Linked DNA regions of Homo sapiens. The protein of the gene in region 2 interacts with the protein of the main gene of each other region in a biochemical or structural test. Each region holds a gene or a part of one and is shown on either strand. Other genes may lie near its edges. The genes, in order: RANBP9, MET, GLMN and DCN.

Evidence for each region.
Region 1: the proteins of MET (region 2) and RANBP9 form a complex in vitro, tested with the Homo sapiens proteins (one study listed by BioGRID and IntAct).
Region 3: the proteins of MET (region 2) and GLMN form a complex in vitro, tested with the Homo sapiens proteins (one study listed by BioGRID).
Region 4: the proteins of MET (region 2) and DCN form a complex in vitro, tested with the Homo sapiens proteins (one study listed by BioGRID).

What each region holds. Positions count from the first base shown.
Region 1 is NC_000006.12:13,701,248-13,709,403, forward strand, and holds part of RANBP9 (ran-binding protein 9), read right to left. Parts: intron 1-8,156. UniProt on the Homo sapiens protein: May act as scaffolding protein, and as adapter protein to couple membrane receptors to intracellular signaling pathways. Acts as a mediator of cell spreading and actin cytoskeleton rearrangement.
Region 2 is NC_000007.14:116,667,140-116,675,358, reverse strand, and holds the start of MET (hepatocyte growth factor receptor isoform b preproprotein), read right to left. Parts: upstream 3,164-8,219; 5' UTR 2,782-3,163; intron 1-2,781. UniProt on the Homo sapiens protein: Receptor tyrosine kinase that transduces signals from the extracellular matrix into the cytoplasm by binding to hepatocyte growth factor/HGF ligand. Regulates many physiological processes including proliferation, scattering, morphogenesis and survival.
Region 3 is NC_000001.11:92,246,414-92,254,569, reverse strand, and holds part of GLMN (glomulin), read left to right. Parts: intron 1-6,580; coding exon 6,581-6,692; intron 6,693-7,425; coding exon 7,426-7,508; intron 7,509-7,923; coding exon 7,924-8,040; 3' UTR 8,041-8,156.
Region 4 is NC_000012.12:91,179,003-91,187,831, forward strand, and holds the start of DCN (decorin isoform a preproprotein), read right to left. Parts: upstream 3,816-8,829; 5' UTR 3,653-3,815; intron 478-3,652; exon of another isoform or gene 360-477; intron 1-359. UniProt on the Homo sapiens protein: May affect the rate of fibrils formation.

The DNA.
Region 1 (8,156 bases), on a different chromosome or scaffold from region 2:
ACACTGGACAGTTGACTTCCAATGAATAAAGTCCAAAATCTTATGAACAGCCACTGCTATGAACTAATGATGTCAACTGAGCACTCTCAATGCTACCAACAATATTTTTAGAAATGTTGTCAGCTTATTCCCTATCCCTCTCAATGGCTTAGTCCACATTTTCATCATTTACTTTAAACTTTACATCCTCTACTCAAATTCATGAGCAAAGTACCTCACCTCTTATCAAGAAAACAGGAGGCCAGCTGGGTGCGGTGGCTCACACCTGTAATCCCAGCACTTTGGGAGGCCAAGGCAGGCGGATTGCCTGAGGTCTGGAGTTCGAGACCAGCCTGGCCAACATAAAACCCCATCTCCACTAAAAATACAAAAAGTGGCCAGGCATGGTGGTGCGCAACTGTATTCCCAGCTACTTGGGAGGCTGAGGCGGAAGAATGGCTTGAACCCTGGAGGCAGAGATTGCAGTGACCCGACGTTGTACCACTGCACTCCAGCCTGGGCGACAAGAGCAAGGCTCCATCTCAAAAAAAAAAAACCAAAAAAACAAAAAACGAGAGGCCATTAGCTATGGTCATATTCAACTCTCCACTCTTTTATTACAAAGTGATCTATGTCCACGGCAGTCTTCACCTCTTCCACTATTATCAAAGAACAGTCTGTACTCTCCTCTCCAAGACCAACCATTCTGGACTCTGGAACCAGTTTCCTCTCTAGAAGCCTCTCTGTCAGCCTCTCAAGCTTGTATTTCATTATCTTCCTCTCTAATCTCTCCTTCCCCTCAATCTGTAAAGGGACAATGTCCCCAAAATGTACACTTTTCACAAATTCTATGCCTCCGTGCTACATATAAATCATTGTCAGTAATGTACCAGAGTTGGTGGTATATAATTTTTTACCTTAAAAGTAATAACAAGGCTGGGCGCAGTGGCTCATGCCTGTAATCCCAGCACTTTGGGAGGCCAAGGTGGGTGGATCACTTGAGGTCAGGAGTTCGAGACCAGCCTGGCCAACATGGTGAAATCCCATCTCTACTAAAAACATAAAACTTAGCCAGGCATGGTGGCGGGTGTGTGTAATCTCAGCTATTCGGGAGGCTGAGGGAGGAGAATTGCTTAAACCTGGGATCCGGCCTGACAAAGCGAGACTCTGTTCAAGAAAAAATAGTAATAATAACCAGGTAGGCTAATCAATTTTATTTGTTAAAATGTTAAATTTTGTATACATTTCCTGGAACACCATACCTTGGACTAATATAATATAGTATTTTCATTTAATTTATGTCGCTTCAGTTTTACCTATACAACCAAATTAAAACAAGATTGACTAAGAAATGACACAGTGGTCTCTAACACAATACTTTCCAAAGGAATTTTTAAGGATAATTTTGGTTATGTAGGATTTTCATCTTCTATGCTGACATTAGAAGCTAAACACCAGGTAAAACGTAACTCCACTATCAGCCGTTAAAAATTAGAAGAAAAAAAAAATCCTACCTTAACCTCCATCCTCCTCTAGGAAATGCCTCATCTCTTCCTTCATCTATATTTCTCAAGGATAATCTCTATTCACTATCCTCTCTACTTGGTCCTTTCATTTACTCTTTCAACCCACTGAAATCTGGTTTTTGCCCCATCACTCAATTCAAACTGCTCTCCCTAAAGTCACAATGATCTAATTTCCAAACGTAGTGGAAAACTATCTGTGCCTATCCTACTAAACCTATCTGTTGCAACAGACACTAAATATCACTTCCTCATTTCTAGGGAAGGTGGGGAGGCTGTTTGAGACAGTGTCTCATTCTGTTGCCCAGGCTAAAATGCAGTGGCATGATCACCGCTGGCTACAGCCTCAACTTCCTGGGTTCAAGCAGTCCTCCCACCTCGACTTCCCCAAGTTTTGGGATTACAGGTGTGAGCCACTGCACCCTCCCGTGCTCAGCTTCTGTGACACCAATCTCCTTGATGTCTGGGGACCTACCATTTCTTTTGTGCTCCCTCTAGTCTTTCAATGTTGGTGTTCTTCAGGGTCCCCATCTTTGGCCCACTGCTTTTTCTCACTCTATTCTCCCTCTCTCTTTCAAATACTCTGAGTTTCAACTACCACCTACAAGTGACTCCTAAATCAGTCACGACCTAGACCTCTCTCCCAAGCTTCAGATCAATTATGGTTAACTGCCAACCCTTCCTAGGAGAAACTGCCTCACACATTGCCCCTACCGAAAGAAGTGAGACCCAGACTATCCTTGTACCAGCAGGGTATTTTGTATTTTATAATTACCACCATTCCTACAGCTGATTCAACACAGGTTAGCACCTGACTTGAAGGCCACCAATTCACAACATAGTCTGTATTGAAAAGCTCTGCCCAACTAAGAATCATAGCAATTAGCCAGGCCAATCTGTTAAGTCTCTCAGGAATTTGACATAGGAAGGAAAGGATAAGCCAGTCAGTAGGGAAAAAGAAATAAAACAACCAGAAACTAGTGATTGGAGCTGAGTCATTTTAATAGAATAGAATTAAGTCATGACTATTAAGACCAGTTAGAGTCCCCTTAACTCCAAAAGACCTGTTCCTGTTCTTTCTGTAAGGCTTGTTTCTTTGGCTTCTTCTGGTTTCCATGAAGTCAGATCACAGGGCTGAGATTCCCATTTTTACTTATCTCCAACTATACTGTAATACAGTCTCCTTCACAATCATTATTTTATTCATGGTTCACTGCAAGAGCCTAACAGCTAAAGACCCAAACATCATCCTAACAGAGTTGGAAACCCAAACATTTTCTTTGATTTCTCTCACTATCATTCCTCATATCCTCTCAGTATTACTTTTAAATATCTCACAAATATATCTGCCTTTCTCTGGCCTTACCACTGACCCAGCTGAGGTCAATTCTAACATGGTCTACTGCAATAGTCTTCTAAATGAATTTACTATTCCCACTCTTGTAACCTCTTGAATCTATCTTCCAATCAGCTGCGTAATCTGACAAAAATGAAGATATGAGCCAGTCACTTCCCATTTAAAATCCTTTGATGATTCTCCATCTCCTACAGAATAAGATCTAAACTCAACAAAATATTCCATAGGGCTCCTAACTGGGCCAGGTACAGTGGCTCCTGCCTGTAATCCTAGCACTTTGGGAGGCTAAGGCAGGCAGATGGCTTGAGCTCAGGAATTCGAGACCAGCCTGGGCAACATGGCAAAACCCCCTTCTCTACAAAAAAATACAAAAAATTAGCTGGGAATGGTGGCACGTGCCTGTAGTTGCAGCTATTCAGGATGCTGAGGTGGGAGGATCACTTGAGCCCAGGAGGCAGAGGTTGCAGTGAGCCTAGATCGCACCACTGCATTCTAGCCTGGACAATGGAGTCAGACCCTGCCTCAAAAGAGAAAAAAAAAAAAGCCTCCTAATTGATCTTTTCCCAGATGCTCCTTGTCACATACTCTAAATGCCAACCCAAAATTGCTTGTAAAACCAGACACATAAAGTAATTCTCTATGTTTTTGCTTTTCCTTCATTTGCAACACCTAGCCCCTCCCTTTCTCCTATATCCTACTCATCTTTTAAGACTGACCACTAGCCTCGACTCCTCCAAGAAGCTATCCCTGATACCTACACTTCCTTCATTCTTTCCAATGTCAGCCTGGGTTATACGCTCCTCCTATTTTCCACAGTACTCTCTATAATATTTCCCTTACTACTCTATTTTATGTCCTCTGAGCTCTCTGAATTCAATGACAGTATCTTCTCCACCTCTGAGTGTCCAGAACCTAGCACAAAGTAAACATTCACTAAAAGCTCATTAAATAAATGAAGAAATGAACAGTGAAAAACACATATAAATTGTCTAGTCTAGCAGAATATATATCATTAGGCTGGGTGCAGTGGTTCACGCCTATAATCCCAGCACTTTGAGAAGCCAAGGCAGGCGGATCACTTGAGGTCAGGAGTTCCAGACCAGCCTGGCCAACATGGCAAAACCCCATCGCTACTAAATATACAAAAATTAGCCAGGCGTGGTGGCAGGCGCTTGTAATCCCGGCTACTTGGGAGGCTGAGGCTGGAAAGTCACTTGAATCCAGGAGATGGAGGTTGCAGTGAGCTGACAAAGTGCCACCACTGCACTTCGGCCTGGGCGACAGAGCAAGATTCTGTCTCAAAAAAAAAAAAAAAAAAAAAAAAAAAAAGAATATACATTATTATTGTCTACTGTTCTGCATGATTATTAGATTTACTTGATTCTTGCAGTTACCAACTGGCATTTTTAAACCTAATTTCCCAAAATCTTGGCAAGTAATTCTTCAATTCCTTCATTTTAAGGAACATTTTTAGGCCGGGCGCGGTGGCTCACGCCTGTAATCCCAGCACTTTGGGAGGACGAGGCGCGCAGATCACAAGGTCAGGAGATCAAGACCATCCTGACTAACTCGGTGAAACCCCCTCTCTATTAAAAATACAAAAGAAATTAGCCAGGCGTGGTGGCAGGCGCATGTAGTCCCAGCTACTGGGGAGGCTGAAGCAGGAGAATGGTCTGAACCCAGGAGGCGGAGCTTGCAGTGAGCGGAGATCGCGCCACTGCCCTGCAGCCTGGGCCTGGGCGACAGAGCAAGACTCCGTCTCAAAAAAAAAAAAAAAAAAGAAACATTTTTATATCACCCCCGTAATGCTTAACAGACATTTGCACTTGTAAGCAAGCATGCTGAAATATCTGTTCAAACTTAAAAAGTGCAAGAAATTAGATAAGCAATTATATTTAGGAAGTGTTCAAGCGCTAATGACTGGGGGTACAGGTGGGAAAGACAGAGTAAGTATAACAAAAGTTCAACCTATCACTCCTGTAATCCCAGCACTTTGGGAGGCCGAGGCGAGTGGATCACTAGGTCAGCAGATAAGAGACCACCTTGGCTAACACGGTGAAACCCTATCTCTACTAAAAATACAAAAAATTAGCCGGGCGTCGCGGCGGGCACCTGTAGTCCCAGCTACTTGGAAGGCTGAGGCAGGAAAATGGCGTGAACGCGGGAGGCGGAGCTTGCAGTGAGCCGAGATGGCGCCACTGCACTCCAGCCTGGGCAACAGAGCAAGACTCGGTCTCAAAAAACAACAAAAAAGTTCAACCTATTTGGTTATTGTTCATAACATTTCAATTAAAAAGTGAAATTCTGGCTGGGCACTGTGGCTCACGCCTGTAATCCCAGCACTTTGGGAGGGCGAGGCGGGCAGATCACGAGGTCAAGAGATCGAGACCATCCTGGCCAACATGTTGAAACCTCCCCTCTACTAAAAATACAAAAATTAGCCAGGCGTGGTGGCGCATGCCTGTATTCTCAGCTATTCAGGAGGCTGAGGCAGAAGAATTGCTTGAACCCGGGAGGCGGAGGTTGCAGTGAGCCAAGATGGCGCCACTGTACTCCAGCCTGACAACAGCAGAGCGAGACTCCATCTTAAAAAAAAAAAAAAAGGACAATTCAGGCCAGGCGCAGTGGCTCATGCCTGTAATCCCGGCATTTTGGGAGGCCGAGGCGGGCAGATCATCTGAGGTCAGGAGTTCAAGACCAGCCTGGCCAACATGGTGAAACCCCGTCTCTACTAGAAATACAAGAATTAGCCGGACGTGGTGCTAAGCGCCTGTAATCCCAGCTACTCAGCTACTCAGGAGGCTGAGGCAGAAGAACTGCATGAACCCAGGAGAGGCTGCAATGAGTAGAGATTGTACCACCGCACTCCAGCCTGGACGATAGAGCAAGACTCTGTCTCAAAAAAAAAAAAAAAAAATGCAATTCACTATTTATTTACTTATTTTTTTTTTAAGATAGGGTCTCACTCTGTCACCCAGGCCATCATAGCTCACTGAAGCCTCAACCTCCTGGGCTCAACCAATCCTCCTCCCTCAGCCTCCTAAGTGGCTGGGATTTCAAGTGTGTGCCACTTAGCCCGGTTAATTTTTAGGGGTAGAGACGGGGTCCCACTATGTTGCCCAGGCTGGTCTAGAACTCTTGGGCTCAAGCGATCCTTCTACTTTGGCCTCCCAAAGTGCTGGGATTACAGGCGTAAGCCACCACACCCACTGAAATTGACTATTTCATTGCTTCCTATAATTCCCAACTTTGACTTACCTTGGATTTCTTCTAAACTGTTCTAAATTAGTAAAATCAAGGTGTCTGGACTTTTCTGAAGCACTGTGTTCCAGTTACCTTTTTCCCCCAGAGTAAGTATTTTCAATCTCAACTATTCTTTAAAAGTTCTAAATGTGATCACAGGATTTTATCTACTTGAGATAATTAAGTCTCATATGAACTTAAAGAGGCAATACTATGGGATTGTGAAAAGAACACTAAATCTGGAGTTAGTGAAAATTTTCAATCCTGATTTACTCATGACTGGGAAGATCTAACCTCCAGGTTCTACCACTCTCTAAAATTTAAAATGAAAATTCCAGGATCTTGTCCAGATCCACTAGTGTGTGTATATATAAAGCACTCTATAAAATATCCAAATAGTGGTAATAACTAGAAAAATATAAAAATGCAATCTGTTGTTGAAACATTTAAACTAAGTCCATTGTCATATTTATTAAAATTATTTTCCCGTTATCATTATAACTAAGTCTAAACTTGTCACATTTGTACTTATTCAATACTGACAACAATTTCAAAAATAAGAGGGGCTATCCCTGGGTTTTTCAATAGTTGTTGTGTGACTGCTAAGCAAAAGGCCTTTAAAAAAATTTCACATATACTATACATACCCTGTTGTTCCTCTGCAATCCAATCAACCTTATCTGCATGTCTAGTATTATCTAACATTAATCTCTTCAAATCATTTCAGGAACAATACTGCTTCCAAAAGCAGTAATTTCAATTTAGAAGAACATCTTAAAAACAGAATACAGGCTGGACACAGTGGCTCAGGCTTGTAATTCCAGTACTTTGGGATGCCAAGGTGGGAGGATCACTGGAGCCCAAACATTCAACACTAGCCTAGGCAACACAGTAAGACCCCATCTCCACAAAAAAAAAAATTACAACTTAGCCCAGCATAGTGACAGGAGCCTGTGGTCCCAGCTACTTGGGAGATGGAGGCAGGGGGATCCCTTGAGCCTAGGAGGTCTAGACTGCAGTGAGCCATGATCGCACCACTGCACTCCATCAAGGCAACAAAGTTGAAATCCTATCACACACACATACACAAAAACACCAGAACAACAACAAAAAACCAGAATACCTTTGGAGCAAAAGAAAGCAAAATACTTCTATTTCAAAGATAAGGAAAATTCTCGTCACTCTGGAAAATAATTAAAATCATTCTTTTGAAATTCTGTAATACGTGAATATATGAATAGTAGTTTTTACTGTTAAAAGTGTCTCATGATACTTAGGTAAAACCAATGCAGCACAATGATAGGTTAAATAAAAATTCACTCTTCTTATTCTGTGATTTTAAAGTATTATCTACTCTCTATGATACTTCTCCTTTGCTACTGCTACTGCTACTGGGACACAGTTGCCCACCACAATCGGCGTGGTCCTCTCACAAAACACGCAGAAAATCAACAGTAACAACGGAAAACTCACACACACACACACACACACACACACAGTCTACAGTAACAAGACAAGAGGAAGAGGCAGTAGAAAGGGAAAAAGACTTTCTGACAAGGGGTAAGAGAGAGACAAAGGAAAGATAGAAGAGAGGAAAAATAAAAGGATAACAACAAAATCTGTTCTTCCAGAAATAATGATTTATGTTTATAAAACAGTTATGTTCCCAGAAAGTGAACCTTAGTATTACACAACAGAAAGTAATAAAGAGGCCAAGAATAAAAACAACTGAGACAGCAGTGTCAGAAATATTCCAAACTCCAACTAATTTCATATAAACGTGTATTTTTCTCTGACCTAATCATCAATTTTATGTAAAAGACTAAAACTAATCAAGACACCTTACAGTACTAAATAAACAGTAATCACGAATCTTAGACATCACGGAAATTCAGAGCTGGAAATTTCCTTACCAATCGTCCAGCTCAACTTACACACCACTCAGAGGAAGAAACTGAGGCTCAGTCTTGTAAAATATCTACAACCACAAACAACTGCAGAACTCAGGAAATCTAGAATTCTTTGTTCATCTACACTGGCTCTGACTTTATGAG
Region 2 (8,219 bases):
AATTATGAATTTGTGTTCATTTAATATGTGATATTTGTCTGTGTATCTAGATCATAAACTTCTCAAGGGCAGATTCCATTTCTTTCTTTTAAAGAAAATGCTGTAGTACCTAGCACATATGATACTCTACCTATAGGTCCTAGCTATTTTTGGTCAGGCAAATGTGGATCTAGCAGCAACTCAGTGTCAGTTGAGAACACATCATCAAAGTGATTCTGAACTAACATTAGTCAGTGTATCTATCATTTATTACTGAGAAGTGACTATTTATTTTGCACTGAGCAAAACCCATGAAGAAACTCTGCCCTAAGGGCTTGGTGTCAAAAACACTAGTTTCAGCATACACCAGCCAGGAAAAGAAGGCTCACTTCCGGACACTTGAGTTTCTACATACATTTTCTCCCCTTAAGAGGGCACAATGAGGAAATTGAGTATCCTATGAATAAACACAGCAGACCAAGGAAATCTTAGGGATTTAGACCACGGAAAAGAAAGCGTAGATGGCTCTGGCGAGAATCACTAAGCCTAATGCCTAAAGAAGAAACGAGCAAACTGGGCTGGAGAAATGGGGGCACGGAAGGCCTTGAAAGCAGCTCTGACCAAACCAAGGGAAAGGGTTGAGGAGGAAGAGGACAGAGAAATGGGAGGTAATCTGAATGTGTGAGGAACTGTGCTCACCATGGGGGTGTTGCCATGTCTTTGGTGCAGCCACTTGGAGAAAATAAGCCAGTTAGAGGATGTTAGCTCCTCTGAGTTATTCACGTTGTTTTGAGATGACCACATTTGAGAAAAAGTTAATTTGAGACTATTATGTAGATCTGCAGAAGGATAATATGACTAATGCTACTTCAAACACTATTTTAAAAACAGCTAAGGAAATTGATTTTTGAAATGTATTTCTTAGTCTAGCCCTCATTAAGACAATTTTTTTTTAAAGATTTCAAGATTAATGCAAGGCATATACTTACATAGTCTTAAAAGGAATTTATAAAATATGGGTATTTCTCCTGCTTAGCAAAGGGTCATTTTTCTCTATTATAGGTTTAAAAGTAGTGAAAATATTAGTTATGAGCTTTCGTATTGACTGGCTATGATTAATCTGGTACATTTTTTATCATGAAGATAAACTCCATCAACTAATTTTGAAAGCATGTAGTATACATCTAATGTAAACCCCTACTGCCATGTATCAAGAACAAAGCAATTTTGAAAAAGCAGTAGTCGGCAGACTGTCTTCTATATGCCACAAATTCCATCATGTTAAAAGCAAAATATATTTAAGTTAATAACTATAGCTTATACACCATTAAGTTTGAAAACGGAATAGAATTTTTAAAACAGCAGTACATTTTATAGGCTATCAGACACATTTTTGTACTACCAAAATTTCTTATGAATGATGTAAATTTTCCCTCTGTTATTCAGCAGTTCAAAAAGAATGAACATTGAATACACCACAGACTTGCAAATGATAGGAACCAAAGTACCTCACTTATGTTCCATTATGGAAGTTTACACGTTCAAAACAAAGCTCAATTAGCTTAGATCAAGGAAGGAAAGCTATGTACCTGTAAATAATCCAAGCACCACTTACACTGTTTACATAAAAATGCAATTTATGTCCCTGTAGCACAGAGAAACATGATGTACATCATTTTCAGATCATCTTCATGCAGAAAAAATTCATTAGTCAGCTATAATAGTTTAGCTGTAAGGGAATATAATGTTTTTCTGAATCCATTTGCATGGCAATGTGCATGTGTCTGGCTGATGAAAGCGACAGAATAAACCCCCACCCAAAGCTACAGAATGTGAACAGTCTTCTTAAAATTCAAGAGAGGGTCCAGATAGTCTATATTGCCTCCAACGTCAGTTCTTACAATCCTCTCACATTCATGGACCATCTTAACATAGCAATTAAAGTATCTTGATTATTTTGCCTAAGAGAGTTGACAATATTTCATTCTGCCCGAGGGCTCCTTTGAACATAAAACTGTGATAAGGTAAAATACACTGGGCAACTATTCATGCGTGAGCCATTGGAGCCCTCTCCAACTGCCAAATTAGCAAATGGCTCTTTTAAAACATGAAAGATATGAATGGGAAACCGTACTTCGGAGTAAATTCTGCATTGACAATAGTCAGGGAAAGTACTTTCACTGGTGCTTTAATTATCGGGTCAGCACTACGACTGGCCACATCGCTCAGCCTCTGGTTATAATCTATTTCACCTAATAAGATAGATGTCCACCACAAGCCCCAGAAAGAGATAAGGTACGATGGAAAATTGATGGATCACAAGCCCCGCGTGATTGCCAGAAATGAATTCAGACTTTCACAGAAACACCTGCCCCTTGGAAGGACCCCAACATAACACAGATAAAGCAAGGCTGGGAACAAGGAAACAGCTCGGCTCAAACCTTGCCAGCTGCATCACGGTGGGACGAGGATGACCGGATCCCTTTTGTAAGGGCTGAGTCAGATCCCAGCTTTAAAACTTGCTGGGCCGTAACAGTCACACATCACCCACTGTCCCAGCGCCCCTCTCCCTCCTAAGTCATACAGGTGGCCATCAGAAGCAACCCCCTAAAAAGACAAGCCCCATTCTAGTTTCGTCCTCGCCGTGGCCACGTCTCTTCAGTTTCCGAAGCCCCTAAACTCTAGCCCACCTACGTGGTTTTGCCCCCTGGAACAGCAGTCAGGTCTCTTAGGGGAACAAAGAAAGCAGAACCCCTGAGGCGAGGGATTGGGTACTGGATCTGAAAGGGGCTGCAATTTTACCTTTCGGTGCCCAGGAACCAGTGGAGAAGTCAGCGGCGCAAGGACCACACGCGCGCTCCGCGCCTCCCCGCCTCCTCTCAGCAAGTCAGCTGTCGCCCCGCATCTGGCTCGCGCCCTCCACTCGGCTCCGCATCTGCTCACAAAGCGCTCGGGGCGCCGCGGGCGGCGAGGGCCTCCGGGTCACCTGCGGCCGGGCTGAGCCCAGCGCCCCGCCCGCCCGCCGGCCGCACTCCCTCCGCCCCTTCCCACACGCGCGCTGCCCTGCCAGTGACTCAGCCGGGCATCGGCGCGCGCGGCCCGCGGCGGCCCGGGCGCGTTGGGGCCGGAGGCACCGCCAGGCGACCAGACTGAGGCGCTCGCCTGCCCGCCCCAGCACGTGTCTGTCTGCCTCGCGTGCTGTCCGTCCCCTAGTCCGCGGGTTCCGAGGACCGCTGAGGTGGGGACTGGCACCACCCAGAGGGAAATCGGCCCCCGCCCTTCCTGCCGTCCGCGCCGCGCCTGGCCCCGCGGGGGTCGCGTTTCCTCCCGCCTCTGCCCCGCCCACGACAAGGTGAAACTTTCTAGGTGGAGAAGTTTTCTCGCCCTGGCTGCGCGCTCTCCTCCCCCAGCTCAGGCAGTCTGAAGTTAGCACAGCCGGAGATAAGCGGGACCGAGTCTCCCCCTCCTGGCGCTTGGGAGGCGAGTGTCACCCCGGGCTCAGATGCAGGGCGCGCACCCTCCTGGCACCCCGCTCGCTGACCCCGGGAAGGGCGCGAGCTTTGCTCTCGGCCTCTCCCACGTCTCCGCTAACCGCCCCGCGCCCACCCGGGTTTAGAGAGATTTGGGCACCGCAGAAACAAGGAGTTCATTGTTAGAGGCGGAGGTAGAAGTGGATGGACGAATTGTCCCAATGATTTCATTATGCAACGATTATCCTCTACTATAATAACTCAAATTTCTGCAAGGAAGAACAACAGAGGAGTTTAACCCTGAGGAGACTTCCATTTCTTTTTTTCTTTTTTTTTTTTTCCATAGCCGGAAGCAGGCTGATTAAATAACTGGGCAAATAGCGATGAATAAGCACAACAGAACAAAAGTTTAATTCTTGAATGTTGAAATCTTATGATGATTTTTAAAAAAGAGCTTTTGGGGCCTCGGTGAACTCTATTAGGAGTAATTGTGTTGGGATAACTTTGTATTTCGCTATAAAAATTGGCACCTACAAGAGTAAATGAACACTCAAAGGTAATAGGATCTAAGGAACGGGCATTGCCGGTTAGAACTTGAGTTCGTTCCGGCTCTCATACCAACTTGTTCAATCATGGCAATAGATAATGAGACATAGATATCTTCGTTATTGAAAGTCATGGGTTAAAATAACAGTTACTATGCAGGTTCAGTTCTTATTTACTACAGAATGAAACATAGAAAAATGTAGTAAGAATAGTTATCATTTCCCAAGTGCCAGGCACTTGGAAATGATAATGTAACCAGAGGTTACATAAGAGTGATTTCAGTCCTCAAAAGAGATTACCTCTTGATTCCCCAGTTTTATGGAAAAGGAAAGTTCCCATTACGTTACTAAAGTCTTGCATTGAACCATTTTGCAGGTAAAGAAACTGAGTCCCTAAAAGTTCCCAGGAGAGTCACATAGCTGGTTAGTAAGAGGGGCAAAGTTAGAACTTAGCTTTCAGCCCAGTCAGGTGTCCTTCACACCATACCAAGAGGCCTCAGCAGGCTAAATAAACAACGCGGCCTGACTGGAGATTTCCTGATACGGCATGGCATAATTTATCAATGACTATAGCTCATTAAAAAACACTAATTTACTGGTAATAAGGCACTGGGCCTATTTATGGACAGATCAATTACAGATTTTGGGTTCAGTAACAGCTTTCAATAAAAGATGAATAAATTAATGAATTTAAAAAGTTTTACACACACACACACACACACACACACACACACACAGAGCCATAGTTGTCTAAAGGAATGATTAGAGTGCTGTTTCTATTTCCTGGTTTCCATAGCAATATGTTAACTGGATTTTTAGATCACATTATGTAGTTGCCTTAACAGGTTTTCTGAGTTTGAGTGCCATGATAAAAATATAAAAGAAAAAATTTACAATTAAAGTTGTAGAAAGACCCAGAAAAGCCAATGCAAACTGGAAAATAAAATAGATGATAAATACAAACAACCCGTTGTGTATTTTCAGCACTGAAACTTTCTAGTTTCTAATAACTAACAAAATTTCAATCCAGTTTTGAAACTGTATTGAAAATCATCATTTCATTTATCAACTGTAAATAAGGAGATAACATTTTATGAAATAACATAACTAACAATAGCATAACTAAAAGTATCTGGGTGTGTGAAGGTCAAGTAATTTTTACACACTACCTAGACAGATTTGATTGGGAAAATGTTTACAGATAATTTCAGATTTTTGGAAATGAATGGAAACAGATATTTTAAAAGGTAATAGGAGTTCTATAATTCAATTTTGGTTTTGCAGCAAACTTTTAATTGTTGCTATTTAACTTTCCTTGGGTTCATGTCATGGGTGATACACTGTATGATGAAGTTCTGTTGGTATTTTCTTAACCAAACCAAATCTCTTGTGGTCCACACTGTTGGCTGGCTAAGCCAGCATCTGTTCCCAACGAGATTTTCCTGTTCCTGCCTCCACTCTTGGGGCTTGAAAAGAGAAATATTTGCTTTCCCAGACTCCTTTGCAGCTAGACATGGCCATGTGATGTCATTCTGGTAATGAGGTATAAGTTGAAGTCTGATGGGGCCTTGTGGGAAAGGGTTTAAGGCTGGTGCCACCCCTTTTCCTTTCTTGCTTCTTGATTTCATATATGATGCCCAGTGAAGAACTAACCATCTTGTGACCAGCATGCAGAAGTTGGTGCTGACATTGCTGAGGTACAGCCCTACTGCCAGTAGACACCTGCTTCCAGATTTCTTGTTTTGTGGAAAAAAAACAAAAACAAAACTTGTTCTAGACACTGGTAGCTGGGACTTCTGTCACCTGCAGCTGAAAGCAATTAAAACTGATAGACCCCTCAAATTGGGAACAACATCTCCAAGACTGAGTTGAGCATAATAGTTAAGAGTTTTAGAACCAAACAACCTGGATTTCAATCCCAGCTATGTCTCTTGCTAGCTGTGTAGCTACAGGCCAGTGGATTAAACTCTCTCGTGTCTCATCTGTGAAATGGGGATCATGATAGGGTTATTGTGAGGATAAAATGAGGAGCTACAAGTAGAGCACATGGAACAGTGTCTGGTAAAATATAAATGATCCAAAGGCATAAGCAGGTCTTATCCATCCACCTGTGGATAACATAATGTTGAACTACAAACAGGATCCCATCTCTTAACTTTGAGATGGGTCTAGTGATAGCTGTGACAAAGAGACAGAGGAACAGCCACCTCCTGCTCTAATATGCTCTATCTTTTTTTCCCTCCCTTTAACACATTAAAATTTGGGTCTTTGAAGGCACTCTTGAAGTTGGTGCTGTTTTTGAAATAAAAATGAAAGCAGTCTCCTAAGAATAGGGGCTTCATGCTTGCAATGTATGGTGAATAGGGCCCACAGACATATACAGGTGCACAGAATGTTTTTAAAAGTGTGAATTGAGGTAGAAAGACCATATGATCTGCTGTTTGCCATTGACCTACCATCTTCTCTTGGGTTGTGTCTGGCCCACCTCTGATCTTGATTTCACTTTCTCCTGTAGGCATTAGGATCTGTGATCCCTGCCTTAAAGAGTAGTTACTCTGGAACTCCTTCTTTCACTCTGTTTTTCCCTTCCTCCTGCCCCATCACCCCTATTATTGTGCCTATGGCAAATGTCTCTACAAAAAGACAATAGAAGAATTCAGGTAATGTCACCTAATGTCATTTCTGAGCACAGATAAAATTTGGAAATGTAGGACTCCTATTACCTTTTTAGAGCTATGTCATGTATGTTCGAATGTTGAAGGTTTTGAAAATTCATGTGATAAAACAAAACAGCAAAACCGAACCAAAAACCAAAAAAACCCTTCTTAACTTTGCTTACCCTACCATCTCCCCAATTTAATTGACCACAAAATGCTTTGATTTTTCTTAATATCTTCAGTGTCAATTTTCTATAAAATTAGTTTTATAGATTATACATTTTAGGAAACTTCGCGTTAAAAATGGAACTGCCAGCTACAGAGGGTTAAAACTGGGCACTTTGGATATGAACTGCTTTTATGTTGATTTGTATTGGTCATTTATGTGTGGCTGGGCTGTCTAAAAATAAATATGCAATGTTAAGTTATCTAAAAATATGACTGAGCATACTTAATATTGAGGACAAGAACAAGACTGCTAGGCTACAAGCTAAAGTATCACAATGTTAATTAGAAGACCTAGGAAATTGTAGGCAGAAAAATTAAGAAAAAATTACCGTCTCCAACAGGGTGCTGCAATTTTGTTAGTGATTTGGTTCATTTTCACATCCAGCTTATGACCTCTCTCCTAAAATCAGGCAAAGGTATAATGTATTTAGCTGTCACTTATTAAATGTGTACCATGTATTCATCATGAGTCTGGAGCTCTGCTTACATCCTCATTAAAAGAACTCCAGAATAGGTATCACCCTTCTCGGTTTACATTGAGGGAAATGAGGCTCAGAGAGATCATGTAACCTATCCAAAGTCACACAGCTGTCTTAAGTCTGTGTCTTTCCAGAATGACTGCACTTCCATTATAATTATTTATTTATTTATTTTAATTGAGATGGAGTCTTGCTTTGTGGCCCAGACTGGAGTGCGAAGGTGTGATCTCAGCTCACTGCAACCTCTGCCTCCCAGGTTCAGGTGATTCTCCTGCCTCAGCCTCCTGAGTAGCTAGGATTACGGGCTCCCGCCACCATGCTAGTTTTTGTATTTTTATTAGAGACGGGGTTTCACCATGTTGGCCAGGGTGGTCTTGAACTCCTGATCTGAAGTGATCCACCCACCTCAACCTCCCAAAGTGCTGGGATTACAGGTGTGAGCCACTGTGCCCGGCCTCTGTTATAATTATTTTAAATTGTCTCCGGTTCTGTAGTGAATGATGCAGTCGTTTAACTGGGAGCAGTAGACCTATTTTTTTTAAGCTTTTATTTTAGGCTTAGGGTTACATGTGCAGGTTTGTTATACAGGTAAACTCGTGTCATGGGGGTTTGTTGTACAGATTATTCCATCACCCAGCTATTAAGCCTAGTACCCAAAAGTTTTTTTTTTTTTTGAGAAGTAGAACTTAAGGCACTCTTTCATTTTCCTTCTCTGTCTGCAAAGTCAGCCACAACCTAAGGCATGGCCACTTCTCTGCTGGCTTGATCATTGGGGACTGATGTTGCAGTGCAGGCCAAAGGTGCTATGCTGTCCATCTGTAGAACACTGCACAGGTCGGAGCCAGGGTCCTAGGCAGTCAA
Region 3 (8,156 bases), on a different chromosome or scaffold from region 2:
GAGAACCGCTGTTAGTCTGATGGGCTTCCCGTTGTGGGTAACCCAGCCTTTCTCTCTGGCTGCACTTAACATTTTTTCCTTCATTTCAACCTTGGTGAATCTGATGATTATGTGTCTTGGGGTTGCTCTTCCCGAGGAGTATCTTTGTGGTGTTCTCTGTATTTTCTGAATTTGACTGTTGGCCTGTCTTCCTAGGTTGGGAAGTTCTCCTGGATAATACCCTGAAGTGTGTTTTCCACCTTGGTTCCATTGTCCCCATCACTTTCAGGTACACCAGTCAAACATAGGTTTGGTCTTTTCACATAGTCCCATATTTCTTGGAAGCTTTGTTCATTCCTTTTCATTCTTTTTTTCTCTAATCTTGTCTTCACACTTTATTTCATTAAGTTGATCTTCAATCTCTGATATTCTTTCTTCCACTTGATCGATTCAGCTATTGATACTTGCATATGCTTCACGAAGTTCTTGTGCTGTGTTTTTCAGCTCCATCAGGTCATTTATGTTCTTCTCTAAACTGCTTATTCTAGTTGGCAATTACTCTAACCTTTTATCAAGGTTCTTAGCTCCTTGCATTGGGTTAGAACATGCTCCTTTAGCTTGGAGGAGTTTGTTATTACTCAACTTCTGAAGCCTACTTCTGTCAGTTCATCAAACTCATTCTCTGTCCAGTTTTGTTCCCTTGCTGGCAAGGAGTTGTGATCCTTTGGAGAAGAGGTGTTCGTGTGCTTGGAATTTTCAGCCCTTTTCCGCTGCTTTTTCCTCGTCTTCGTGGATTTCTACCTTTGGTCTTTGCTGTTGGTGACCTTTGGGTGGAGTTTTTGCTTGGGTCATCCTTTTTGTTGACGTTAATGCTATTGCTTTGTGTTTGTTAGTTTTCCTTCTAACAGTCAGGCCCCTCTTCTGCAGGTCTGCTGCAGTTTGCTGGGGGTCCACTCCAGACCCTGTTTGCCCGGGTATCACCATTGGAGGCTGCAGAACAGCAAAGATTGCTGCCTGCTCCTTCCTCTGGAAGCTTCATCCCAGAGGGGCACCCGCCAGATGCCAGCCGGAGCTCTCCTGTATGAGGTGGCTGTTGACCCCTGCTGGGAGGTGTCTCCCTATCAGGAAGCACGAGGGGTCAGGGACCCATTTGAGGAAGCAGTCTGTCCCTTAGCAGAGCTCAAGCGCTGTGCTGAGAGATCTGCTGCTCTCTTCAGAGCTGGCAGGCAGGAATGTTTGTCTGCTGAAGCTGCACCCACAGCCACCCTTTCCCCAAGGTGCTCTGTCCCAGGGAGATGGAAGTTTTATCTATAAGCCCCTGACTGGAGCTGCTGCCTTTCTTTCAGAGATGCCCTGCCCAGAGAGAGGAGGAATCTAGAGCTTAAGTTTTTTTTCAATTTCCATTTCTATTTAAGATTCAGGGGTGCAGGTTTGGTACAGGGGCATATTGTGTAAGTTGTTTCTTTCTCTAAGATAAAACATATCCATGAAATATTTGCAGAGCCGGATGACTTCTATATGAATTAGAAGAAAGGGGAAACCTGGGTCTTGTTCATGGCTTTTTATTTCTTCATTACCATCACTGACTGTATTCTTTGCAGGGTTCCTGACTGTTCTGGCAATAAATTTCATTGTAGTGTAGAACTGCCTAGTCTTCCTTTTGTGAGAGAGATATGCTACAGTGAATTTTGAAATGTATAGTTTTAAGCCTTAGAACTGGAAATCAGTAAGCCTCCTTGGGTATGAAATTAAAAGCAGGTATTTGTGAACATTTCAAATTTTTAATTATAACTATTTTAAAACTCTTAATTTACTTTTTCTAGACACTGAAAGATTTTAAGAAATCTTAAAATGTGATTTTCTTTGTAGTATTTATTATTTCTTTAAAAACGATCTGGTAACCTTGAGAGAAAAAATATTCTTATTCTCACAGCTTCTTCACTCCTACATGCTTCTAAAAATATTACAGTTTATCATCTGAAAAATTTGTGGAATTATGCTGAACAGAATATGTAAAAAATTTCTTTAGGCTACTTTTGGCATGTGTTTTTATTACCTGAAGTTTTATGATTATGGGCTATTGCCATTGAAAACAGCTAAGGTTTTAACATTCAAAGATCTAGATTTGCACTGTCCAATACAGTAGACAGTAGACACATGTGACTATTTAAATTTATATTAATTTTTTTTTCCTTTTGAGTTGGGGTCTCACTCTATAGCCCAGGCTGGAGTGCAGTGGCGCAATCACGGCACATTGCAATAACAACCTCCTGTACTCAGGTGATCCTCCCATCTGGGATTACAGGCATGAGCTACTGCGCTGGGCCAGTACTCTTTATTAATATGTGATTATTTCCATTTGAGAAATTTGAAACATTAAAAGAAAACGTTTGGTTAGAGATACATTTGCTTTTTAAAGTCCTGATTTAGTAATTTGGTTAAAATTTTTGGCTGAAGAGAATTAGTGAAGCTTAATTGTATATTTGTACCAATGAATGATTATAAAACTTTATCACTGTAATCCCAGCACTTTGGGAGGCTGAGGCGGGCAGATCACCTGAGGTTAGGAGTTAGAGACCAGCCAGTCCAACATGGCGAAACCCCATCTCTACTAAAACTACAAAAAAATTAGCTGGGCATGGTGGCAGACGCTTATAATCCCAGCTACTCTGGAGGCTGAGGCAGGAGAATTGCTTGAACCCAGTAGGTGGAGGCTGCAGTGAGCTCAGATCATGCCTCTGCACTCCAGCCTGGGCAACAGAGCAAGAAGACACCATCTTAAAAAAAAAAAAAAAAGTTTTGGGAATCAGATTTAAAAGAATTTCCATTACAAAGTAAAACTGAAAGGATGAAAGAAAAAAATTTTCAACTTAGAACTTCTACAAGAGGAAAGTTTTTCATGGATACAAATTCTTTGGTTATATTTTTGCAAATATTCCAGTCTGTGGCTTGTGTTTTAATAGTATTTTTCAAAGAACAGAAATTTTAATATTTATGGAGTCCAACTTATCAATTTTATTCTTTTATGATTCATTATTTATGGGTTCTAAGAAGTCTTTGTTAACCCAGATCACAAAGGTAATTTCTTGTAGAAATTGTATAGTTTTAGGTTTTACACTTAGGTCAATGACCCCATTTCAAGTAAACTTTTTATGATATGAGATATGGGTTGAGAGATTTTTTTTTCTTTTATTTTGACCTCAACACTATTTGTAGAAAAGGTTATCCTTAATTTACTGAATTATCTTGGCAACTTTATCAAAAATCATTTTATAAGTATGGGTCTATTTTTGGACTCTATTCCATTTACCTGTATCTATTCTTTTACCAATACCACACTGTCTTGATTCCTTTATAGGAAGAAATTATTCTGTTTTATTCCTTTATAGGAAGTCTTGACCTCAAGTAATGTGAGTCTGCCAACTTTGTTCTTCTTTTTCAAAATTGTATTGGCTATTTTTAAATCCTTTACCTTTTCTGTATAAATTTTAGAATTTTGTCAATTTCTGCCACAAAGAGTTTTAATTCCACTTATGGCATTCTGGAAAAGGCAAAAATTACCTTAACAAAAATCAGATTGCTGGTTGCTGGAGGTGGGAGGAAACTGACTACAAAGGGGCACAAAGAAATTTCTGGGTCATGGGAATATCTTTACAGCAGCAGTGGTTACATGACTTTATATCACTATATATCTTTGTCAAAGCTCAGAATTGTATAGCTAGAAGGTTATATTTTACTGTATGTAAACAATATCTCAACAAACCTGACTTTGAAAAATAATAAAAAGAAAAGAACTAGGCTCAATAGTGAATTAGACTGAAATTACCTCATGAACAGGCAAGCACACTGATTATGTAAAAATCTTTCTGATGTTTACTTTTGAATTGTTTATTCTCCATTTTTCTACATTAAAGTATTAAGATTAAATGTGTTATATGGAAAGGATTTGAGGGAAAACTTTTATTTCAACTATATAAATAAACGTGTGAGTTGTGATGTAAAACCTAGTTTTTACTGAGAGTCATGGCAAAAATAATTTGAAAAACAGTATCCTAGAAAAACTTTTACCCCGTGTGAATGGGAAAACATACAGCAATGTAAATGCTGCATTATTTTGAAATACTAAAAACTTAGGATAAATTCCATATAATGGAATGCTTATGCACCAATTAAAATTAGAGCTACAACACAAATAACTCTCAAAAACATAAGATTGACAAAGAAAAAGGAAGCTGAAGCAGGTTATATACAGTATACCATTTATGTGCTTTTAAACATGAAAAATTATATTGTTTAAGTGATACATTAGGAATGCAAAACATTCAAGTTTTAGATAATGGCTACCTCTTGAATAAAGGGGATTTCAGCCATATCTAGTATTTATTTTTTAAAAGTAAATATGATAAAATGTTTCCTTTTGTCAAAGGTTTCCTTTTGTCAAAGCTAGGTGTTTTCCCTATACTCTTTATGTTCAAATGTGCTTTAGTGGGTAACAGAGAGTCATCAGTAACCTAGTCTTGAAAGCCATCAGTTGCAGTGGGTTCTGCCTATAAACCCAGAGGTGAATGCAAAGTAAAAAGAAAAAAAAAAAGTTGGGGGGCAGGGAATAAATGGTGAAGAAAAGGCTGGACGTAAAAAGGAATAAAAGCCTGTTATTTGCAGCAACGTGGATGGACCTACATGTCATTACATTGAAATATGCCAGGCCCAGAAAGACAGTATCACATATTCTCACATGTGTGAGCTAACAAACTTGATCTCGTGGATACAGAATATAGAATGATTGATTGATACCAGAGTGTGAGCATGGGAGGAGGAAATGTAGAGCAACTGGTGAATGGGTACAAAAAGAGTTAGATAAAAGACAAGCTGTATTGCTTGATAGCACATTACAGTGACTATAATTAGCAACAATATATTGTATATTTCAATGTAGCTAGGAGAGAGGACAGGAAATGTTACCAACCCATAGAAATGATGAATACTCAAGAGGATGGATACCCCAAATACTCTGACATTATTATACATTTTATACGTGTAACAAATACATGTACCCATAAATATGTAAAATATCATGTATCAGTAAAAGAAAAAGGCTGGATAGAGAGAGGTAAAAATAGGAGAAATGAGAGCAGTCAGTGCACATAAGAGTAATATGCTTGTTATACTGTGTGGCTACACTGGTTAAGGAAATTCCTGCTGCATATAACCCAAATTTGCCATTAGAGGTTAAGAAAACTTTCCACTTAACAATTTAAAAATTATACAACTAAAACATCCATTATTTAAAAATCAACATAAAGAAGCAAAAAAAAAAAAAAAAGAATAGTAATCAAAATTACACCGTTGTTGATATACTGTATTCCCTTCTAGGTTTTGGGTTAATACGTCTGTACATTTTTTCTTTTTTAAAAAGAAAATGAGATCATACTAAAAGAATCACACTGTTTTATAACCTTTTTTCCCATTCACCAATATGTACTGAAAAACAGTATTTTAATGGCTGTATAGTTTTTCCATTATGTTAATATGTCATAATTTACTATGAATCTCCTGTTGAGTTATTTTAATTCTAATGTTTCACTAAACATTTTTAAAAAACATCTGCAGTAGAATCATAACATACATCTTTATTTCCCCAAGATAAGTTGATAGATGCTAAGTGAAAAGGTATGCATATTTTTGAGGGTTTTAGATCCTCTCTAGTATTCTACTTTTCCTATTAGTATAGGATAAATAAGACAAGATGACTGAAATGAAAAGGATAGGTGTGAGACATTAATATTATCAATTATTCAGCATAGACATGTGTAGATTTTATTTGGAATGCTGCAAGTAACATGTACTACTTGGGTCAAAATAAGCTCATTACAAAATAGGTTATCAAGTAGTTCATTATTCTAGTTAAGAATAAATTGGGTCCCTACGTTTCCCTTTTTGACCTAAGACATTTTCCTTTGTAAAGAGTACTTGGAAACTGGAAGTACCAATGGATTTTCTTTTCTCTATTTTTTAAAATAAAGACTTCATGAGTCCTCTCCATTAGTACTGTAAGAGAAAATGCTCTTGGAATAAACTCTAAGATACATGACAAAATAAGCTGCCCTCAACAGATAAAATCTTCACCTACTTTGGTCACCAGGGAGGTTCAAATTAGCCGGGTATTAGAAAAGTTTCCATCAGTAGGAAAGGGAAAGCATCCTCTAGAACTAGATCCGTGGTGTGGATATCAATTGAAAGGCCATACTTGGGATGAAGGCATAAATAAGGTAGAGTCATTGTGGAGATGGCTCATAGAGGAAGAGACGTCTGTGAATTTATCCTCAAATAATTTTCTCATAAATAAAACTTAACAAGTTAATAGATCTCAAAACCTGGAGCTATCCAAATGGTGCAGTGATAAGCGTAGTGCCCCAAGTACATTTTTCTTTTAATTGGTATTCACATAACTAGCTATAGTAATAATTATTAAATAGTGAAGTCCATTGTGAAAAGCAAGGGCCATGTTTCATTTATTTTTGTTTTTTGAGCTTTTATCGCGTTTAATAGTAGGCAATCAATCATTGTTGAACTAAATAACTCATTCTTTCATTCTTAACAGACTGGATTATGGACAGAACTTGGAAATATTGAGAATAATTTCTTAAAGCCACTTCATATAGGACTTAATATGTCAAAAGCACATTATGAAGCAGAAATTAAAAATAGCCAAGGTTGGTAATGTGCAATTTTGTTTTCAATTAGGTCTAAAAAGTAGTCTAATTTTGGAACTGTCATATTCAAATTTAAGAACTTTTTAAAAATCTTGTACTTTAGAGACCATAACAGCTAAGCCATTTTATTTATAGTTAAAATTCTTAGCAGATCTATAAGCTAATTTACCTAAAATCGGGTTAATGAAGACTTAAACCAAATATTACATTGTAAAGCCTCAAGGTCTGATTAAGAATCTGTATTACAGCTATTTCCGTTTGGGTACCATTCCTTTGGTATTGCTGGGTCCACTCTCCATCTCACTCTCAAGTAAATCCATACAAATTATGAAAAGAATCTTAGATCCAGAATTTTTTTAAGTCAATAATTCTATAATAATCGTGTGATCTCTTCCGTATATCTGTGGTGGTGCTTTTATAGGCATTACCGGAAATTTTGTTTTTAGTATAATGGCTATAATTCTGATTATATACTGAAGAAAACAGTTTCATGAATCCTATACATGCCAAAATAATGCTATTTATCTAAAGAAGCATTAATTTACATGTTGCAGAATTTTGATATTTCATTCTGTTTGCTTATAGCTTAAGTATACCCTGAGCTGTTAAACAATGGACTTAATAATTTATACAAATAACTGACATGTTTTAAGTTAGTGAATGAAAGTAGCTTATACCTTTGTTATTGAAATCTGAGAGTTAAGTGTCACACATGATTTTTCTTCTCTTACAGAGGCCCAGAAATCTAAAGATCTTTGTTCTATAACTGTAAGTGGAGAAGAGATCCCTAATATGCCTCCTGAAATGCAGCTTAAGGTGATCTGAAATTTTCTTTTCTTTCCTTTTTCTTCTTTAGAAACGGGGTCTTGCTATCTTGCCCAAGCTGGAGTGCAGTGGCATGATTGTGGCTCACTGCAGCTTCAACTCCCTGGGCTCAAGTGATCCACCCACCTCAGATTCCTGATTAGCCAGGACTGCAGGTGCACACCACCATGCCTGGCTAATTTTTAGTAGAGATAGGGTCTCACTATGTTGCTCAGGCTGGTCTCCAACTCCTGGCCTCTAGTAATCCTCTCAGCTCAGCCTCCCAAAGCACAGGAATTACAGGTGCAAACCACTGTACCTGGTCTTAAATATTCCTAAGCTACCTCCAGCTGAAATCTTTTCTGTGTTTTGCTTTGTTTTGCTTTAAAGGCAGCATTAATAACATTACTTTTTCTTGGCATTGCAGGTCCTGCATTCAGCTCTTTTCACATTTGATTTGATTGAAAGTGTTCTAGCTCGAGTGGAAGAACTCATTGAAATAAAAACAAAGTCTACCTCTGAAGAAAATATTGGGATAAAGTGAAAGTTCCATTTCCTAAATAAAAACTAATAAAATATAGTACTTTCCATTATGATTCATTTAATACCTTTATAAAAAATTTTTCTGTAAAAATTTACTGCTTGAAAAATAAATGTAGC
Region 4 (8,829 bases), on a different chromosome or scaffold from region 2:
ATCTCTCCATCCTACCACAATTATTTTGATCCAGGCCCTTCTCATCTCTCCCTAAACTACTACAAGAGCTTCTAATTCATCTCTGCCTTGCATATTTCCTCTATTTCAGTCCATCTTCCATTTTGCTGCCTGAGTCATCGTCTAAAAATTCAATTTTGTCTTATTAATTTCTACTATAAACCATTTATTAACTTCCTATGGCTTATCAATACTGTCCACAGTCCCTGTGCTGTATGTCAGACCACTCATAAATTGGTATGAATTAATAGCTCTAGCCACATTCCTTTTCATTGTCACTCCATTCCCAGTCCTCACCTGAACCCTGACAATCAAAGCTACTTGCCATGTAGAATACCGACCTTGCAAGAGAGTTGTAAAGATTAAATGAGATAGTGGGCTTCTCTTCTGTGTCCCCTGGCTCATCCAGGCAAGATGCTGCTTTCTCCCTCTTCTCTGCTCCCAAAGCACGTTGCTCTTACCTCTTTTAAAGAACTTATCACATTATATTGCAATTTGTTTTGCGTGCTTGGTCTGTCCCTCACTAGACGATGTACTCCTTCAGGGCGTGTCTTATTATTCCTTGTTCTGTACCCGGGCCTTGCACAATATTTTGCACACAAATGACTCAATTGACCATCACTTTATTGACAAGACGATTTATTCCATTTGTTCCAAGCAATCAGTCTGATTTTTTAAAACACAAAATTAGCTTTTTTTCAGTATCGAATTTCTGATATAAAAAAAGCAGATTGAAAACCTCAACTTGGTATAAGCAAGATCGGCTTTAAAAAATAAATCAATTTCCTAGTTTCTCAAACATTATGTTTAATAAGCTAATAAACACATATGGAAAATTCTGATTTTTATGTGATGTATATATGATCTCATTTTGCTAACAGGGCATTTTGTAAAAAAACAAGTATTGTTTTGATAAATGTATTCCATATTTATCCATTCATTCCACAAGCACGAATCTATGTTGTTAAATCAACTGAAGTGCACTAAATAAATCTGAGTGACAAAATCGTAATAAATCTGAATAACAAAAGTACTTGATTATATAGCAGCAAAGTCATTTGGGAGATGAAATATTTTTTAAATTGCATTGAAACCATTCTGATATCTCCAAAACATAGTAGATATTTAGTCCCATCATAGCAGATATTTAGTCCCATCATCTCTACCTTGAATTGTACACTTAGACGAATCCATATTAAAGCTGTACGTTCGTAAGTAGAATCTTACAGCTGTTTTGAGTCATTATCCAATTGTAGCATATTAAAAAAAAGAAGAAAGAAAGAAGGAAGGAAGAAAGAAAGAAAGAAGGAAGAAAGAAAAGGAAAGAAAGAAAGAGAAAAAGAAAGAAAGGAAGAAAGTGAAAGAAAGAGAGAGAGAGAGAGAAAGAAAGAAGAGAAGAGAAAAGAAAGATCTTTGTATGATCTAACCTTAAGGTATCTTCTGGGAATTTTTGCCTAGATTCTCTAGAGAAGAAACAAATGTTTTTCAGTTTCTTACATGTTTGTTCTTAGTTTATATTTACTACTGATATGTGTCTAAGGCAGCACATGTTGAATACAGGCTTGTGGCTTTTCATTTAACAAAATATCATAAAGATTATTATTCACACTGCCACTTTAAGTTCAACATTAAGCTTCTTCTAGCAGCCCACTCTCATTCAGTTACTGAGTATCCCTTTAAGAGAAGACTTTTGTTTTGGCAGCCTGTTCCTTTGGATTGTATCTGAGGGAGTGGTTTTGTATCTGTTTCCCATTAAAAATGCAATGTTTATGGTTTACCACAAGCTTGCTAGCCTTGCATATTTAATGTCTTACAAGTTTAAAAGAAAAATGAAGCAAAGTCATTGCAGATTTAATAAATAGCAACGACAGTTAATGCAGATGTCACTTTGAAATCTTTTCTCCAGAGCAGAACATGCCTGGTTGTTTCACTAACAACCCACAAAAAGAAAATGTTGAGTATTAGCTGAGAGAAATAGTATTATAATTTATGTTTGTTTACTCCTGTTAAAATGGTACAAATTCTCCAAACAATATTCTTTTTGATTGAAGCTGAATATAGACAGGCAGCTTATAACTTCAATCACCGACCTTTATTTCATTTTCATTTGCTCGTGTGTGTGTGTGTGTGAGAGAGAGAGAATGTATGTGTGTGTGTTCATGTGTGTGTGACAGAGAGAGAGTGTATGTGTGTGTGTGCATTTAACCCTGACTGTACTGTGAAAAAATAATTGCATGTCCAGAAACTTTGTGCAAAATCTTCCATAAAATCATCTGTTTTAAATTAGTGTCATGGTACTTCAAGACCCAGCATCTTAAAACATTTAATGTGGGCTGTCAATACTGATAATTCCTTTCGTCATTTCCTTCTTTCCTTAATTAATCAGAAATATAAAGAGCAAAGAGCAGCTGTCCAAGTAGTAACCAAAGAGATTGTTATTGAGATGATATGCTGTTTAAATTATACTGAAACTGTTTTAAGTAGTCTAAAAATGCATGACAATGTCCAAGATGCTAATTACTAATGTAATATCACTACTCCACTGAAGCTAGTTGCCATAGTTTACAAATGTTTTACCAAAAATAATAATTTCTGGTTCCTAAAACTAGTTAAGCCCATTAAATGAAGTATGTCATCCAGATCAACATTTGCATTATGTTATCTATGCCTCTGGTGTCACTTTCAAAGTCAAAATTTAACCCTCAAGAGATAAGTGAAGCTATAAATGCAAAACAAAATTAAAATCCTACAGCACTAGATGATTAAAAACTTCAATTATAATATATGTAATTTTAAAATAAAGAATAAAGGCGGCATTTATCCACAAACAAGGGTTACTATAGGAGGCATTTGGCTCTTTTCTGGTTAGAAACAGCAACAGGAAAAAAAAAAGCCACAGGTATTTACATCACTGGGAGCCCACTTAATCAGTGGTCACTGTGTTACCCTGTTTTAAAATTAGAAAATTAACCCACATCCTCATTTTATAGTGAATGTATCTTAAAATTTCACTTGCAGTGAAGATACTGACTGGGACACTTTACATTTAAGAAATTATACAGCGTTTTTAGTATCTTAGGCATTTAATAACATAAATATTTTCAATGTTTATTTTCACTTCTCTGGTGATAATTTCTGTTCATTTCTGGGGTTGAAGAAATATACATTAGGTATTTTCAGCTAATCACCAGAGTTCAGTTCTTCTGGGCTTTTAAAAGTCCTTAAAGCAATCAAAAATTCAGGAGAAAAATACATTTTTTAAATATATAGGTCAATTACAGATATGCTACTTCAGAATACTTTTCGGTTACCATCTCTTGAAGAGCTAAACATTCATTAATACAAACACAAAAACATTAATATAGAGAGTCATGGTGTTAGGTTACAGTTTTTTAAGAAGCATCTTTGCAAAAACAGAAGAGAAAGAAATAAAACAATGCATTCAATCATTTTATCAAATATTTAACTTCTGTTTTCAAATAATACTTGTTTAAAATGTTGCATAAAAACTATAAAAGTTTAACAGTTTTTTTTTTCCTTTTCTTTTTCTCACCAAATAATCCCTTTTGCTCGCAACTTGACCGAAGTTTTATTAGTCTGTAGCAGAGTTCAGGACAATTATTGAAAACCATACCTTTTAATCCGGGAATTTGCCACAGGAGCCCTCAAAGCTGAGATGTAATTACACTAAATATTCAGCCCAAGTAAAAGAGTTTGCAGGTGTGGAAAGGAGGAGGGGGTAGGTGCTGCTCTGTGACTAGGTTGAAAACCTCCTGCTTCTACTCCATAGCACAGTTAAAAAATAAGGTTTCCCTCAATGAACACAATCCGGCTGACACCCACATTAGATCATATGGTAATGATATGTCTCTTGTATTGTAGCCAGAAACTTTATCGGCCTTTTTTTTCCTCCCATTTGCTTTATTCTTTTTGCATCTGCTTAAGATTCTAAACTGCTTATGCAGTATAGTGGAGCAACTTGATTTGAAATTTGTCTTATTGTAGATTCATTTCCCTAAGATATTGTAACTAAAGGGTTTGTTTCCCCACCCCCCATCTCATTTCATTCTCCACCCTTTCTAGCCTTGTTTACAAGTAGCATTTATTATACTTCCAAAATGACATTTTTTTCTTGCTTTTGGGATGTGTAAGTCCAGAAAAATGGAATGAAATTAATCTTGTAGTTGTTTTAAATGTGGACTGCAAAAATAAATGAGTAGCCTTATGTGAAACTACTCATTCGGATTCCTACTTGCCTTGGAATGTTTGTGTAAATTCAAGCACTATGCTGTGGAGTTTTTCTGTATATTTTGGACATATTTCTAAAGTGTCCTGAAAGAAAGTCATGGTTTTATATGAAAAGTATGTCATCTATCACTTTCATTAATCATAGTTTAAAATCTTTCTCCCTGTCCACCAGTTTTTAAATAAAATACATAGATAACCTGTAGTTGATCACAACATAGTTTCATCCTCTATATATGAAAAATTTGATTTTCATAGATTATACTTTTATGTAAACTAGAACTTTGAAAAGGCAATAGAGTCTATGTGTCTTTCCAAATTTCAGTAAATGAAAAGAAAAACAAGTGCAACTACAAGGAAAGGTATTTATTTAGCCACTGGAAATCTTTTTTGAGCTTTTATAATTCCCTTGCTGGATGCTGTTAGTTGTCTCTGTGTAGGTCTCTGTGTTTTGACTTGTATCATTATGCTCTGGCCCCTAGGCTGTTACCAGGTGGAAACTGGAAATCAACAGTTTGAAACATGAGATGATCCCCCTCCCATCCTCCAGCCTCCTTCCTTCCCTCCTCCAGCCATCAAAGTATATTCTTCCACAGTAAATATTCTTTTTCCTCAAAAAAACTTAGAGAAATTAAATTCTCAAGTGGTATCTAAGGAGGGGGAGGCGTGTTACCACGTTATAGTTTGCCTTATTTCCTAAGCCCAGCCTCTCAGATAAACAATTTACCCTACTCTGCATCTCCTTAACATTTAATAACCACATATCTAGTTATTCTGATAGTTTAGACAAAGGCAAGCACTATTGTCCCTGGACATTGGTGCAAAAGTCCATGATCCCCTTTACTTGGAATTTATTAATTTCCTTTCTGAACTCTCCTTATATGGCATTTATCTCTTTTTGATGACATATAATCACTCCTGCCTCATATTATAATTATTTATGTACGTGTCTTACTCCAAGGGAGGAATGACATTGTGTTCATGTTTGTAGAATCCCTGCACCCAGAATAGCCATGGTATATACTAAGTTACCAAGATACATTTGCTAAATTAGTAAAGACAATCAAATGATTGGCTATGGACCGTACCCGGACTGGTGTTTTGCCCCAATCCTGGCTTACTGTTTATCAAAACTTAACCCTACTAAAGTGTATATGACAAATTATGGCCATCATTACAAGACAGAGAGAGAGAAAAGGAAGTATTAAAGAAAAAGTAGAAGAAGAAAAATGAGGAGGAGGAGAAAAAAAGACATAATGCCTTTTTATGTAGATAATTTTACTTTTATAAAAGCAGAACCATTATGGTTAAGATTTAGATCTTGTTCCTTCCCCCCGATAGTAAGCTATATGAACTCAGGCAACTTGCTTAACCTCTCTGAATTTCAGTTTCCATATCTGAAAAATGGATACAAATTCTTACCTAACTCATAGTGTTGGAGTGGAGATTAAATAAGGCAATATATATAAAACACTTAACTCAGAACTTAATCCTTATAAGTGAAAATCTCTGTAAATGCAAGCTTTTATTATGTCTTGACATATTTCAAAACAATCCTTTGAGTTAGACAAGATAAGTCATATTTACTATTTCTGTTTTACAAATGAGAAAATTGAAGCCCAGTGACTTGCCCAAGTTCACAGAGCTGGCAAGAAACAAAGCAGAAACTAATATCCAGGTCTTCTCATGCCTAATCCACTTTTCATTACTAAACTATACTAAACTATAATGTATCTTAAGAAAGAGGAAGCAAATTCTTACATATAGAAAAGTAATTATCAAAGTTTTGAGATAACATCTTTTCAGACTATTTTACAAACCATGACCAAGTTGCAATGCTTTTAAAACTTTATTTAATTTGTTCAGGAACAAATAAAAATTTTCTTTTTGTTGTTGTTGTTTGGAAAGAAACTCACCTCCAAAATCTCAAGCATTTTACCAAACATCATCATATTTAAAAGCTGCATCTTTAATCACAAGTTACATCTATCGTCATACTCATTTTTCAGTAGAAGAAACTATGTCCCAACAAAGTCATACGCAGTTAAGTCACCAAGAGGTCATGACACTATGACCAGAAACCAGGTCTCTTGCAATCCAACATGAAATGGAACCATTTTAAGACTAGAAACAGCACTGTGCACAGATTGCTTAAAGTCATTCTGGCTTGGAATGTTTGGGGTAGGATTCCCTGAATCCCTGGCTGACATATAGATATGTGAAATATTCCAATTCAGAGCACATCCCACATCTACTGTTAAACTACTTAAACTTTGATTTCTACTGACAACCCACTAGCTAACAGGGTTAACTGTATTCTGCACATTGTCGAAGTTCATTTCAGGGCCATTCTCTCTCATTGACATCACATACAAAGTATTTAATTGTACCTGCCCATTAAGGATATGAAGAATGCCAGAGCTTAGAAAGGTCTCCTTCTGACACCCCTTTACTTTCTAAGAGGTCTAGAGGCAAGTGATTATCTTCACAATCCTGATGTGACTGGTTTGTCTGTAGACTGACTCTGCAAAGTCAGATCTGGGTCTGGTGTGAATTGTCTGGCTCTGTAGTTGCCACTGTAGACAGAGTTCTTCCCTAGCCAAGAAAGATGACTAGCGTGGAACTGAGGGCACTTTGAATACAGAATAGCTTGAAAGAAAATTTGGTGTAGACAACTTTTACCTTGGCTATCTTCCCATGCCTCTATTCCTCCATCCCTTACCATTGTGTTTGGTGTCCTGGTACCTTGTACAAGTAACTTAACCTCTTTGTTCTCCAGGTTTTTAACCTATACAATGTGAGTAGCCACAGTGGTATCCCCTTCATGAGTTTATAGTGAGGTTCAAAGAAGTTTAATACATAAAACATTTAGAACTGTGCCTGACACATCTCAAGCAACACTTGTTGCTTCCGCTGCTGCTTCTCTTGTGTTTTTTGTTATTACAAACTTTACCTTGGACACTCCAGTACAATAACCAGACTGCACATCTTTTATAGTCCAGTGGATTTTCTGCCTAACAACAGAAGAAATCAGCTAAGCTATGATATAGTTTGGAGCTAGATAAGCTTTCGTTTAAGCCTTGACTTTGTGTTGTTACATAACAGCCTGGCTTTCTTTATGCATAACATTTTATTGGGCTCCAAGTCCAGCTGAAATCCATTCATGGACTTTATAAGGAAACAGAGACTCCAGGTTAAGAATTTCTACTCTGAGCAGTAAAGTAGAAATGGGAATAGAGACAGGGAAAGGATAAGTAATGAATTAAAATAGATTAAAAAGTATCAAGGAGATATTCAGTTCCTTAATTTCCTGACTTTTCTTGAATGCTCTGGGGCATCTCTTTTGTCAGTTGTAATTAATTAAAAGATTAATTATTATTTCCATAATATTGATTAGTTTGTACTTGGACAGTAAATCAACACTTATTGAATATCCATTAGTCTGCACAAGGTACATACCTCTCTGTTAAATACAAGGAAATTTACAATAACTCATCAATCAATTAATCAAAAAATATAGACTGAGGAACCACTGTGGGAGGAAGTGTTATACCAGGCCCCATGGAAGATACCAAGAAATACAAAGTACGATGTGAAGGGCATAGCCTCAAGGGAAATATGTTGCATAAGGAGATATGGCATAAACTATAGATTTGTATAATAATATTTTAGCTTTAGCATACCAGAAAACTTATAATGTATAATTCCCGGCCAAAGTAAAGTATGATGTAATTAAAATAATTGTCTTAGAAAGTCAGAGAAGGGATTGAGGGATGGATCACTTTACATTTGAGTGGTTAGGTAAGTGTTTATAATGAACAAGGTACAATTTGAGCTAAATCCTGAGGGATGAAAAGAATATGCATGGAGAGAAAAGAAAGAAATGGCTTTTTATGTTGGCAAAATGACACTAACAAACCTTGGCAATGGGAAAGCAGAAGACAATAAATAAATCAATGTGGCTTAAGCAGATACTTTCTTTCAAAGAAGCCTTGAGTTCCTTTATTTCTTTGAACATTCAGTAACTCTCATGGTATCTGACATGTCAAAGTCACACAATAAATTAATGTCCCATGTTTATGGAAATAACTAAAAGGAGATAATGAAATAAATGAGGGTAAGGTCTAACTGTGGAAGGACTTGAAATTCTCCCATGGAGCACTTATACATTTATTCATTCATTTGTTCATCAAATATTAATTTGTTGATGAATATGTGCCAATTATTATGCTTGAATCTAGATGTTATCAAAGGTAATTGAATGAGGTAATAACATGATCCAATTATTATTTTAGAAAATCAAATCTAGCAAGCACATGTAGAGTGGTGAAACTAGAGTCAAGGAAACTAGTTAGAAGGTTGTAGTTTTAATCTCAGTATATTAATATCTTAGTAAGGGGAAGGAAGATAGATGAGCATGGCGAAAATAGAGCTACTTCTCAGGAAGATGATGTAATACATTAAAAAGAAAAGTTTGGAGTACTCATTCTGCACCAGGCACCATGGTACATAGTCAATTTTAAAAGCACAAATAATGTGTGATGAGGCAGCGTACTCTGAACACTG